2 linked regions of the Homo sapiens genome follow. The protein of the gene in region 2 interacts with the protein of the main gene of each other region in a biochemical or structural test. Each region holds a gene or a part of one and is shown on either strand. Other genes may lie near its edges.

Region 1 (4,936 bases), on a different chromosome or scaffold from region 2:
AAAGATTATGCAATCAGTCTTTAAAAAAACAGAATAATTAATTTTAATAAAAAATGTTTCTTGATTTTAAATGTTTTAAAAGATAGGACCCAAAATTCCACTTCATCTGGCCTGGCATCATCCTTGCAGGCTTTGGATATGTCTCCCGTGTGCGGACCTGGGAGGCAGTGAGAACTAATTATTTCTTTGTTGCTTAACAAAAGGCGGTGCTGTTTGGCACTTTCACAGACTGGCTTATCTCCAGCAACCACTGCAGAAGACAGTGTTATCACCATTTTATAGAGGAGAAAACTGAGACTTAGAGAGGTAAAGTAATTTGCCCAAAGTTACATATCTAGGAAGCCTCAGCACAAGAATTCAAATCCTGGCCATCTGATTCCAGAGCCTGGGCTCTTGGCCAGCACAGCCTGACTGTCACTGGTTGGGGGAAGGGGCGGTGATGCTTTTAGAAACAGGCTTCTTGAGACACCAGGCAGCTTTCCAGTTCCCTGCAAACATGGGGGAATGCCCTGATCAGTCCTAAAGGTGTGACATAGTCTACTTTCTAGGGCAGTTATTTCTTATTGTAAATTAACTAGTGGCTATTATATTTGCTTCTGCCCGCAGGGAGAGAAGATGCTGAGTAATTGTGCCAACACAGGTGCTTAAAGTCCGTGTGACAGTTACTTTTCTTATAGCATGTACTCAATTAATACTTGTTACATGAATGAAGAATGACTTGACTTGCCTCAGTTGGCATTCTGGGGTGTCTACCTGGGTGCAGCATTTCAGGGCTGGGTTTCCCTGAGCAGAGTTGTCTTTGTAGCAGATGGATGGACTCTGTCCTCAGACAGGCTTATAAAGAGTACTACCAGTTCTATTAGCCCCACTCAGCCCCTGCAGTTGTTACAAGGGTTCATGTGCTTTCTGTTGGAATTAGGAGAACAGAACAGTCATAGACTATTTAAAAATATATATTTACTAAAATGTATTTGTTTGTTTTTAATTCCCAAAGCTTACAACCATCTTTTCATCTAATCTGTGAGGTATTTAGTATACAGCAGTGATTTTCTCTCTTTCCTTTTTTATAAAGTGAAGAGGTTCAACTATCCAGAGAGTCCCATCTAACTCAAAAAATGTAATGGCTTTGGTTGGATTGCATCTTCAGTCAGTACCTGCCCATGGCTTAATCAGTATTTTAAGTGAATGAATCATGTTTCCCCACTAGATCATTACGAGTAAGCAGTAAGTAATAAATAGAGAATATTAAGTATTGAACATTATTAGATGCAGCTTTTTGTTCTGCATAGAAGAAAGATGAGGATAAAGGAGGGCATTGAGGCCACGAAGAGCTTCCCAGACACCCACGGCCATCAGATCATCTTCTTCCTGCAGGCAGTGCCTTCTGGTGGAAGGAGCTCAGTCTATCAGAGAATAAACCAGGAGCCTGAAAGCAGTCCTGTGTCTCTGCCTTTAATCAGCTGTCACTTATTCTCTCCCCAAGAAAGGGAAATAGGTCTCAGCAGTTTCTGCCATCCATCATGAATCAATGAAATCATTTCATTAAAAATTTTTTTGTATGAATGTGCAAAATTGCCAACTAGGAGTTCAATGGGAAAAATAAAAAAAACTTAGTTTGTCAACATGATCCATAGACGAGATGATCTTCATGTGTTCCAAAGGCAGAAAGGTGAGAAAAAGGATCTAGCTTGGTCTCTGTCCCTCAAAGACAGAAGAGGTCAGGAAGTCCAATGGGCGATGCTCCTGTAGATAAGGCACAAAGCAGGAGAGCTGAGGGTGTCCAGGTTCCATGCCCTGCATCACCAAGAACCCTTCTCCCTGGCTTGAAATCTTTGGAAATTCCTGGTTTGAGTCACAGAGAAGCATTGTCATGGGCTCAGTAACCCTGCCACCCCTGTTATCTCCATTCTCCCTTTGGTCACAGCAGCTGTCTTAAGACACAAGACCATGCCTGGGCCCTACGTAGGCTGGCTGAGAAGGAAGGTTGCTGCAATGGCTTCCGAACTCCAGGGAGCAAGTGCTGGCTTCAGCTCAAAGTTTCCAGGGGCTGGGAATAAGGTGGAGGAATAGCCATCAGAAGAAAGGGCAGTTGGAAGTATAGTGTCTGGAAGAGGGGGCTCCATGTCCCTCCAGCCTCAGTGCCTGCACGTTCCTCACCAGCTAAGCTGTGCTGAGAAGTGGGTAAGCTAGGTAGTAGCCCACAGCAGAGCCCAAGACCACACCAAGGAAAATCCAGGTGTTGTAGGACATTACGGCCAGCATGATGAAGTAGCCGATGACCACCTGGATGACATGGATTAGAGACTGGCCAAAGTGACACAAATACCACCTAGATAAAAAGGAGAAGCAAGTTAATCCTGGTAATGAGCTGGTAATGAGGAAGCTGGGAGTAGATATCAGGGAGTAGAAAGCTGTTGAGTTACGTGACCCGATTGATTTATAACTTGTATGCTTAACCCAGGAGTGATTTCTTTCTGCCCCTCCCACCCCCGCCCCCAGAAAAAACTCGAGATTTATTTTTAAAGAGACATATCTTCACTACATTTGGTTTCAAGCTTCCTGGCATCCTAGGCAAAGGGGAAAATGAGGGTATCTATAATCTGTCTTTCTGATAAGGAATAAGAGAAAATCATCAGTAAGGCATATTTCCCCCCTGAATCTACTTCGGGAGGCAGTATGACAATGGAAAGAAAAAGCATGGTCTTAGGTGACATTATCAGTTCCTAGACCTGCCACTAACTAAAAGTGGCCTAGACAAATGTCTTAACCTCTCTGAACGTAAGATTCCTTATCAGTAAAACAGGAATGAGAATACTTCCCTTGCAGTGCAGTTGTGAAGATCTGAGACACCCATGTAGGGTGGCTAGTGATGGAGCGGGCAGGCTTATTAAGCACAGGTGAGGCTGGGGCTGGACAGAGGGCAGAACAGGGACCCTAAATGGTTGCCTGATTCGAGTGGGAAGGGAGGAGAGGAGAGCTTGTCATCCTCCTCCCACCAAGTGGGATACATTGCTTCAGGACAGCTGCAGATCCCCTCCTGGATATGGGAGCCTAGTGACCCATGGAACTGGTGAGATTTGGGGGAGGGTGGGTGGCCACCTCATTTGCTAGATAGGGGCCTGCACCTGAAGATCACTGTTCCCTAAAGAAAGCCTTCTGAGCCTCTCAAGTGGCTGGCTGTTCACAGAGTGCTTTGGCCTGGGCATCAGGAGACATGAGCTCTAGTTCACTTGGCTATGTGTAGCCACTTTGGCAAGTCCTGGTCCTTCCCTGGGCCTCGCTGTCCTCTCTGTGAAGTGGGGCTAATGCTGTCTGGGCCAGCCTGTCTCTCAGGGTGAATGTGAGGCTTCTGCCCCTTTCCCATACCCACTGCCTGTACCTGTGGTGGGTTCTGCCAACAGGGAATGAATCTGAGCCTGCAGAGTCCCCGTCTGTCTCTGCGATGGTCTGCTGGCTGATGGAGGTTGGCAGGTTCACCAGTACCTGGTTGAGCAGCTTGGCTTTGCCAACCTTGATGCCTTCATACAGTACAGCCAGAAGCAGGAGCACCAACACCGAAAGGGCCATGCCTGTCAAAGGAGGCAGAGTTGTGGAGACCTGGCCAGGCCAGCACTGTTTCCCTTCCAGCACCTCCACCTGTTCATGGAATCCACTCCATCCACCTCTATCCTGCACCTTCTTCCCCACCCTTGCTGAGTTCCGAACTTCTTCACTGTCTTCACCAGACTTTTCTTAGCTGGAGTGTGGCTTTGAGATCAGGAAGAGAAGCCACCTGAAAAATCCAGGGGCTGAGGGTGAAGAAGCCACGTACCATTACCCCACCCACTCCCCCAGCAGGCTGCACAAATCTGTCGTGACTTCTTGTTAAGTGATGAGTACTGCAAGGTCCTATTTATATGTAAGTATGCAAAAAATGTCTGGAAGGAAAGATAAATAGCACAAGAGTAATAGTTATCTCAGCAAAGTAGGATACAGGTGGTTTTTATGTTCTTGCCTAACTTTCTAAGGTTTCTTTTATATATATTACTTTTATAATAGGGGAAAAACCCAATAAATTATTTTACCAAAACTATCAAGTGCTTATTAGAGCTGCTGTGTAAAATTAACTGTTAATTACTACTTTTGTTTCACTAAGAGGGATAATAAGTGGTCCAGCTAAAGTATTTTACTGGACTCTGCGACATAATAAGAGATATATATCCTGTTTCTGCCCTGGTTTCCTGGCACACGACTTCTAGAACCCTTGGAAACGCTGTCAAGTGGTGTCTTTTTATATGCTAATGAGATGACTGATGGCTGAGGCTCCTGGATGGGGGCTGGTTGCCAGGGGAGCCAAACTTGTGCTTGGAGGTTGGCACTTTCAGCCCCACTCCCTACCTCTGGAAGGAGACAGGGACTGAAGGTTGAATTGATCACCAGTGGCCAATGAGGTCATCAATCATTCCTCCATATGAAGACTCCATAGAAACCCAAAAGAATGCAGTTTAGATAGAAGGAATAAGTTGTTGTATTCGACAGTACAGTAGGGAAATTTATAGTTAACCATAATTTATTGTATATTTCAAAATAGAATTGTAATGTTCCCAACACAAAGATAAATGTTTGAGGTGATAAACACCCCAGTCACCCTGATTGGATCATTACATATTGTATATAGGTATCAAAATATCACGTGTACCCCAAAACATGTACAACTATTATATATGAATAATTTTTTTTAAAAGGACAGGATTTGAAAAGCTTCCAGCTGCTGTGAACACATGGGGGTACCTGGAAGGTGGCAAGCCCAGGGAGGGCCTGGAGGCTCTGAACCCCCTCCTACATGCCTTGCCCCATGCATCTTTTCCACACAGCTATTCATTGTACTTTTTTTTTTTAGATGGAGTCTCGCTCTGTTGCCCAGGCTGGAGTGCAGTGGCGCAATCTTGGCTCACTG
Region 2 (8,302 bases):
TGCTGGGATTACAGGCATGAACCACCATGCCAGGCCTGTTGAAAGAAATTTTAAAAGATCTACATAAATAGAAAGACATCCTATGTTAACACATTGGAACACTTAATTGTTAAGATGTCAGTACTACCTAAAGTGATATACAAACTCAATGCAATCCCTATCAAAATCGCAGCTGGCCCATTGCAGTAATTGATGAGCTGATCCTAAAGTTTCTATGGAAAAGCGAGGGACACAAAATAGCCAAAACAATCATGAAAAAGAACAAAGTTGGCCAGGCGAGGTGGCTCACGCTTGTAATCCCAGCACTTTGGGAGGCCATGGCGGGTGGATCACCTGAGGTCGGGAGTTGGAGACCAGCCTGACCAACATGGAGAAACCCCGTCTCTACTAAAAATACAAAATTACCCGGGCGTGGTGGCGCATGCCTGTAATCCCAGCTACTTGGGAAGCCTCAGGAGAGGCTTCCCAAGGCAGGAGGCAGGAGAATCGCTTGAACCCGGGAGGCGGAGGTTGCGGTGAGCCGAGATCGCGCCATTGCACTCCAGCCTGGGCAACAAGAATGAAACTCCGTCTCAAAAATAAAAAAAAAAAAAAAAGAACAAAGTTGTAGGACTCACACATCCCAATCTTACAACTTACAACATGGCAACAGTAATCAAGATAGCATGGTACTGGCATAAGGTTAGATAAATAGACCAGTGGAATAGAATTCAGAGTCCAGGAATACACCCTCACACTTATGATAAATTGATTTTCTACAAAGGTACCAAGACAATTCACCAGAGAAAGAATACTCTTTTCAACAAATGGTACTGCGACAACTGGATATACACTTGCCAAAGAATAAAGTCGGACCCTTCTCACCTCATACACGAAAATTAACTCAAAATGGATCACAGGCCGGGCGCCGTGGCTCACGCCTGTAATCCCAGCACTTTGGGAGGCCGTGGCAGGCAGATCACGAGGTCAGGAGATCGAGACCATCCTAGCTAACACACTGAAACCGCGTCTCTACTAAAAGTACAAAAAATTAGCCGGGCGAGGTAGCGGGCACCTGTAGTCCCAGCCACTGGGGAGGCTGAGGCAGGAGAATGGCGTGAACCCAGGAGGCGGAGCTTGCAGTGAGCGGAGATCATACCACTGCACTCCAGCCTGGGCAACAAGGCAAGACTCTGTCTCAAAAAAAAAAAAAAAAAGCATCAAAGACCTACATGTAGAGCTAAATTATAAAACTCTTAGATTACCCAGCTATTCGGGAGGCTGAGGCACAAGAATAGCTTGAACCTGGGAGGCCGAGGTTGCAGTGAGCTGAGATTGCGCCACTGCACTCCAGTCTGGGCAACAAAGCAAGCCTCTGTCTCAAAAAATAAATAAATAAAACTTTTAGAAAAATACAGGAGAAAATCTTTGTGCCCTTGTGTGAGAAAAAGCCTTCTTATACATGACACCAAAAACCCAAGAAACAAAAGAAAAATAGATAAATTAGACACGTCAAATTTTAAAACTTCTGTACTTCAAAGGATAGCATCAAGAGAGTGAAAAGACAACCCACTGAATGAAAGAAAATATATGCAAGTTGTATATCTGATAAAAGACTTGTACCCAGGTTACATAAAGAATTCTTACAACTCCATAATAAAGGGAAAAATAAAGCAATTAAAAATGGGCAAAGGATATGAATAGTCATTTCTACAAAAATATATATAAATGATCAATAAGCACATGAAAGACAATCAACATCATTAACCATCAGGGAAATGCAAATCAAACCACAATCACATACCACTCACACCCACCAGAATGGCTATCATCAAAAAGGCAGTCAGACGTGATAGCACACACTTGTAACCCCAGACATTTGGGAGGTTGAAGTGGGAGGATGGCTTGAGGAGTCCGGGGTTGCAGTGAGCTATGACTGCACCACTGCACTCCAGACTGGGCAACAGAATGAGACCCTCTCTCAGAAAAAAAAAAAAAAAGTGTCAGTGAGGACATGCAGAAATTGGAACCTTTATATACTACTGCTGATTGGAATGTAAAATGAAGCAGCCACGTTGGAAACTAGTCTAGCAGTTTCTCAAAATGTTAAACGTAGAGTTACCATATGACTACACAGTTCCACTCCTAAATTTATACCGCACATGTTCACACACAGATTTTTACATGAAGATTCATAACAGCATTATTCATAATAGCCAAAAGATGAAATAATGTCCATCAGCTGATGAATGGCTAGAATGTGGTATACCCATGTGATAGAATATTATTTGTACATAAAAGAGTGAAGTGCTAAAACATACCACTATATGAATGAACCTTAAAAACATTCTGCTGTGAGAGAAGCCAGTCACAAAATCTCACATATTATATGATGCCATTTACACTAAATGTGCAGAACAAGCAAATCTAGAGACAGAAAACATATTAGTGATTCCTTAAGGCTAAGGGGGTTGGAGGAAATAGGGAGTGACTGCTAATGGGTAGGGGGTTTATTTTTGTGGTGACAACAACGTTCCATAATTGAGTATAGTGATGGTTGCAAAATTCTAGGAATGTACTAAAAAATATTGATGTATACTTTAAATGGGTGAATTGTGTGGCATGTGAATTATATCTCAATAATGCTGGCTTTTTAAGGCATAATAAAAACTTTTTCAAACATACAAAAGGTGAAAGGAAATATCACCCACACACCCAAACTATAAGTAATGTTTAGGAAAGCCTATCAGAAGCCAATATGGACCTATGCAAAGGAATGGAGGAGATCAGAAATTTTAACTATGCAAGTAAATATATAGAATTTTTCTCAATGTCTAAATTCTGTAAAAAATAATAATCATGTATTGTGAGATTTATAACTTTGATTTAAATAAAATATATGACAGCAATGGCATAAAGTTCAGGAGGAGAGAAATGGAAGGTTCTTAGGCTATCCATGAATCAGTGTAATGTCACCTGAAGACAGATTGATGAATTAAAGATGTATACCATAAACCCTGAACCAACCACTGGAGTAACAAAACAAAAAAAAGAATTACACCCAATTAGCAAGGATGGAGGAGGAGGAGAAGGGCAAGAGGAAAAAGAAATGGAGTAATAATAATAAATACTAAGTCCAAAAGAAGGCAGAAAAGGAGAAAAGAGAGGAAAAGAATTGATGGTACAATGGTAGATTTAAATCTAACCATATCAATAATCAGATTGAAAGTAAATGGTCTAAGCACTTCAACTAAGAAGCAAAGATTGTCAAATAAGAACAAAAAGTAAGGTCCAACAGTAGGCTGCCAACAAGAATCCAACTTTAAATGAAAAGACTCAAATAGGTTCAAAATAAAAGAGTGGGAAAAGACACATCTTGCTACCACTAATCAAAAGAAAGATGGAGTGGCTATATTAATATCAGACAAAGTATGTTTTGGAGCAAAAAATATTACTAGAGATAAAGAGGGTCTTTTCAATACAATAAAGGGCTCAATTCATCAAGATGATGTAGCAATCCTAAATATGTATGCACCTAATAACAGCATCAAAACACACAAGGCAAAAACAGAACTACAAAAAGAAAATGACAAATCCACAATTTCACAATTATAATTGGAGAATTCTTTTTTTTTTCTTTTGAGACAAAGTCTCACTCTGTCACCGAGGCTGGAGTACAGTGGTGTGATCATGACTCACTGCAGCCTTCACTGCCTGGGCTTGAGCAATCCTCCCACCCCAGCCTCCTGAGTAGCTGGGACCACAGGCATGTGCCACCACACTCAGCTAATTTTTTTTTTGTTATTTGTAGAGACAAGATCTCATATTACCCAGGCTAGGCTCCAGTGATCCTCTCGCCTTGGCCTCCCAAAGTGCTGGAATTACAGGCATGAGCCACCGCACCCAGCAGATAATTGGAGAATACTCCTCTCTCAATAATTTACAGAACAAGTAGATAAAAATCAGGAAGCTATTAGAAAACGTGAACAGAGGAGGAACAGAGGTGTCCAGGGCACAGGCAGGAGCACAGTGGAGCTGGGTATACTGTGTGTGGAAGGGTGGGGTACACACCATTGTGGGTGTAAAGGAAAGAAGAAGTGACTTTGGAAAGGTAGACCCAGGGCAAGGTTGGAGCAGGATGTACAGGTCTTCAGAGTTTATTTAAAGTCTAATAGAAAGGCAGAAGTGGGTTTTCAGCCACAGTACTCTCCCACTTAACCCAAATAGGCCCTCTGAACCTTCACATCATGGAATCCTGGGCAAGCATCAGCCAGGACTGAAGCTGGCGTCCCTTCAAGAGAAGCCATACCATCTCTGCAGGAATGGAGGCCCGTGTCCTTCTGAAGCTTGACCGTGCCACCCTCCAGATGCCCCACTGGCACGGAGCCAGAAGACAGAGACCTCATCCTGTTTAGTTCCTGATTTGCTGTGTGACTCCAAGCAGGGCCCTTCACCTTTCTGGTCCTTTGTCTCCCCATCTGTAAAAAAGAGTGATTCTGATTCTGTGTGTTTCCATTGGTTAATAATTGTGCACCTACAAAATCTCTGTCAAGGTTAGCTTCCATCGGGCCCCAACTTCCTATTCCCACCACTGCTGACCCCAGCCTCCAGCTTGTCCCACCCATGAGCTGCTGCTCCACGACCCTCTGGCTGCTGGCAGCACCTGCCCCTCTTCCTCCACAATCAGACTGTCCCCCATTACCACAGCCTCCTTCCTGGACACCAGCAGCTCCCACTTCTGTGTATCCCAAGCTGCTGACCCCAGGTTCTCTTGTAGCACAGCTCTAGACCCTGAAGTGCTTTGAAGGAACCAAAAAGTAATAAGAGACTCAAAAGTGAAGCCATTCTTCTATAAGGCTGGTAGGGACCACCATTCATGAACCCACCCAGAAAGCCCTGAGGCTTGGGGGCTCTATCCCTAGTTCCTCTGGGCACTGTCATCTTTCAGGGCAGCCACCAGAGATAGGACAGACCCAGCAGAGTCAACTGCACAATAGGCTCACCCAGGCCACAGCCCAGGCCTATTGCATGGGAGCCTCTGGGGTGTGAAACCAATAATTCATGTTTGTTAAAACCTCCAAGTGATTCAGACATGGGGTCAAGGCTGAGACTGAGAGATGGAAAGCAATGTGTCTCCACTCAGATGTGCAGGCCATCACCTGAAGACCTCAAGCAATGTAGATTCCAGTCCAGCAGGCTTGGAGGCCAAAGCACTCATCTCTGCAAGCTCCAGGCAAGCCCCTTCTGCAGGTCCGAGGACCACACTCCAAGGAGTAAGGGCATGGGGGATGGAAGAGCAGCAAGCAGGAGCCAGAAGGCTCTAGGTGCTCACCTCGGCTCTGCCCCTGACCCTGACACTCACTCACTTGCCCCTCTGAGCCTCAATGTCCCCATTCAGAAACAGAACCAGTGGCACCTACCTGGCAGACCCTTGCCCCATTTCTCTTTCCCTTCAGCCAGGCTCTCCACCCCCCTCAGTACTGACCAGTGCTCCCTGAATGCCCTGTTCTAAGTGTGGCCCAACCCGCCAAGCCCTACAACAGCCAGACAGGGCAGGTACTTAAAGACTGAAACCCTGTGGCAGGGTGGGTCAGCTGCTTCCTCACTTAGACAAGGCAGGGGAGTCAAGGTTCAAAGCCAGGCCACCTGCCCACAGAGCTGTCTCCAGGTGGCATGTCACCATTGCCTCACACTGACACCCTCACTCCAATTCCCACCCTTGGTCTGCCAAGCAGGGCTGCATCCAAGGCTCACCTCCTTGCCCTGAGGGCTCCTGGCTGGAGTGGCCCCACTTAGCCCTGGTCCCCGATCCCCACCTTCCTTTCCTTCTCTCCCAGTGGGCACTTCCAAGCTCCATGTCAAGCCTGGGCTCTGCAACAGATTCTGGAGTACAGGTCGGCATTGATCCTGGGAAGGGCCTGAAAAACATCATGCCTCCTTCACCACCTCCCTCAGTTTAGAGATGGGACGATGGAGGCCCAAAAGAAAGCGACTTTCCCAAGGCCTCCCTCTGCCACCCTGCTCAACTGCACCTGCCTGCAGGTGAAAAGACAGCCCTGGCATAAGTGACCAAGGGGTGCAAGCCCCAGGGACCACGTGGAGTCACACGAGGACTAAGGCGGCCTGTGCACCTTCACCCTAAAGCTGCCCCTGCCTTGGACTCTGAAGGTTCGCCTAGCTGCTCTCCACATCCAGCTCCTGTCCTCACCCCTGGGTCTGGCGTCACTCCCTAACAGATTCTCTCAGCACCCTTGGGTGGGTCTCCTGAGCTCCGCCCACCATCCCAATGGGCACGAGCCAGGCTAGCCCCACCCTGTCCCTCCTGGCCAGTGCCCACACCTGCAGCCTGGTCCACCTGGACCCCTAGGTCTGAATCTGAACCCCTAGACCTGGACCACTTGGCCTGGTCCCCCCTCAGCCTACTCTGACTGTCACCTATCAGGCCACCGAGACCCAGCCCAGTTCTTCTTCCTCCTCTGCCTCCCCCTCCTTCCCCTTCTTCCTCTCTTCCTCCTTCCCCTGTCCTTCTTTACCCTCCTCCCCCTCCCCTGTTTCCTCTCCTCTCCTTCCTTCCTCCTCTTCTTGGAAGTCAGAATGAATCTGAACCACTGCCTTCTCCTCCCCAGCCCTTTCCTGGAGGTATTTGCCGCAGCCAGCCCAAGTCATGGCTGTTCCTACAGCCCACCTCCCTACACAGGGCCTGTGTCTGCCACATTTTCACATTAACTATGATGCTCTGAAACACAGCTCAGGGACAAGGTCCTGATAAGTATTCATTACCCTCAGGCAACTATTATTCTCCCTGAGCCCCTGATCTCCCTCACTGAGCCAGGCAAAGACAGCATCAATTCCCCACCACCCCCAGTGCCAGGGCATTGCCCAGCCCCTCCCCCACGGCTCTACAAATACCCACCCAGGTCGCACAGCTATCTAAAAAGAGAAGGAGGGGTCCCTGACAACATGCCCCTCCCTGAATCTCTGCATGCCCCAAATCTCTACATACTCCATAATCTTCACATGCCCCATCGCAAGGACCTGGCTCAGGCAGATTGTAAATGTGCCTTTGAGGACCACATGCCATCCTCAGGCAGGTGTTCTGGGATAACTCCTCTACCCACGGAGGTGCTATGAGGATGCCTGTGACAGCACCAGCCCTGGGCCTGCACAAGGCAGGCACCCTGAGAAACCAAGTGCCCTCCCCAGGGAGCTCATTTCTAGTGCACATGAGGCTTGAGGGGCTCCCAGCAAAACCTGACAACCCACCCAATGTTAGAACAATGGTGTAAAGACAGATTCCTGGCAACACCACAAAAGAGGGCCATTGCCAATCAAGCTACTGGCTGCATTAGTAAAGGTCGCAGGAACTGAATCAAAATAGAAATCCATTTTGGTTGGTTTCATTGGGAAACAAAGAACATGCCGGCCTGTGTTTCTTTTGTCTCAGGGACTTCCAGACGCCACTGAGAGATGATAAACAGCCAAACAGATGCATTTCCGCCAGAAAGGGCTTTTGTGGCTAGTCATTTGGAAATGAAACACAGGCGCTCTCCCCCTCCTTGACAGAAAGAGCATCGACGAGACTGGCAAGTGGCTGCCATGGGCCACGGTCAGTCGACCTTGGGAGGCTGTGGATTCTGGGCGGTTCTGCCCCTGGTCTCTGTGGTTGGGCAACTTCCTCTCTAACCTCCAGATTTCTGTTTCCTTATGAAGAATAGGTAAGAGCATGGAGGTCAGATAACCTCCAAGGAACCTCCAGTGCCAAAAATCTATGGGCCTCTTCTTGGCCAATCACCACCTTCAAGTCTTTTTTTTTTTTTTTTTTTTTTTTTTTTTTTTTTTTTTTTTGAGGCAGAGTCTCGCTTTGTCACCAGGCTGGAGTGCAATAGCATGATCTCGGCTCACTGCAATCTCCGCCTTCCAGGTTCAAGCGATTCCTCTGCCTCAGCCTCCTGAGTAGCTGAGACTACAGGTATGCACCACCACACCCGGCTAATATTTTGTATTTTTAGTAGAGACGGAGTTTCACCATGTTGGCCAGGATGGTCTCGATCTCCTGACCTCGAGATCTGCCCGCCTTGGCCTCCCAAAGTGCTGGGATTACAGGCGTGAGCCACCGCACCCGGCCGGCCACCTCCAAGTCTTTAATTCACCAGAGTTACTGCTATCCAACCATGGCCCTTGGGCCCACTTGATTCAGTAGAATCAATATGACCACAGGTAACATGGCAGCAGGACATCATTTAATGATAAAAACGATGGTACCATGTTCATACGCTTGCACACACAGGCACACACACTATGGTGCTCCATCTTTGGGTGCTGT

What was found. The genes of interacting proteins can lie anywhere in the genome.
Region 1: the proteins of RAMP3 (region 2) and SLC31A2 form a complex in vitro, tested with the Homo sapiens proteins (one study listed by BioGRID).

The regions. Positions count from the first base shown.
Region 1 is NC_000009.12:113,160,142-113,165,077, reverse strand, and holds the end of SLC31A2 (protein SLC31A2), read right to left. Parts: intron 4,073-4,936; exon of another isoform or gene 3,570-4,072; coding exon 3,380-3,569; exon of another isoform or gene 2,330-3,379; coding exon 2,161-2,329; 3' UTR 938-2,160; downstream 1-937. UniProt on the Homo sapiens protein: Does not function as a copper(1+) importer in vivo. However, in vitro functions as a low-affinity copper(1+) importer.
Region 2 is NC_000007.14:45,159,853-45,168,154, reverse strand, and holds part of RAMP3 (receptor activity-modifying protein 3 precursor), read right to left. Parts: intron 5,898-8,302; coding exon of another isoform or gene 5,734-5,897; intron 4,458-5,733; coding exon of another isoform or gene 4,289-4,457; intron 1-4,288. UniProt on the Homo sapiens protein: Accessory protein that interacts with and modulates the function of G-protein coupled receptors including calcitonin gene-related peptide type 1 receptor (CALCRL), calcitonin receptor (CALCR) and G-protein coupled estrogen receptor 1 (GPER1).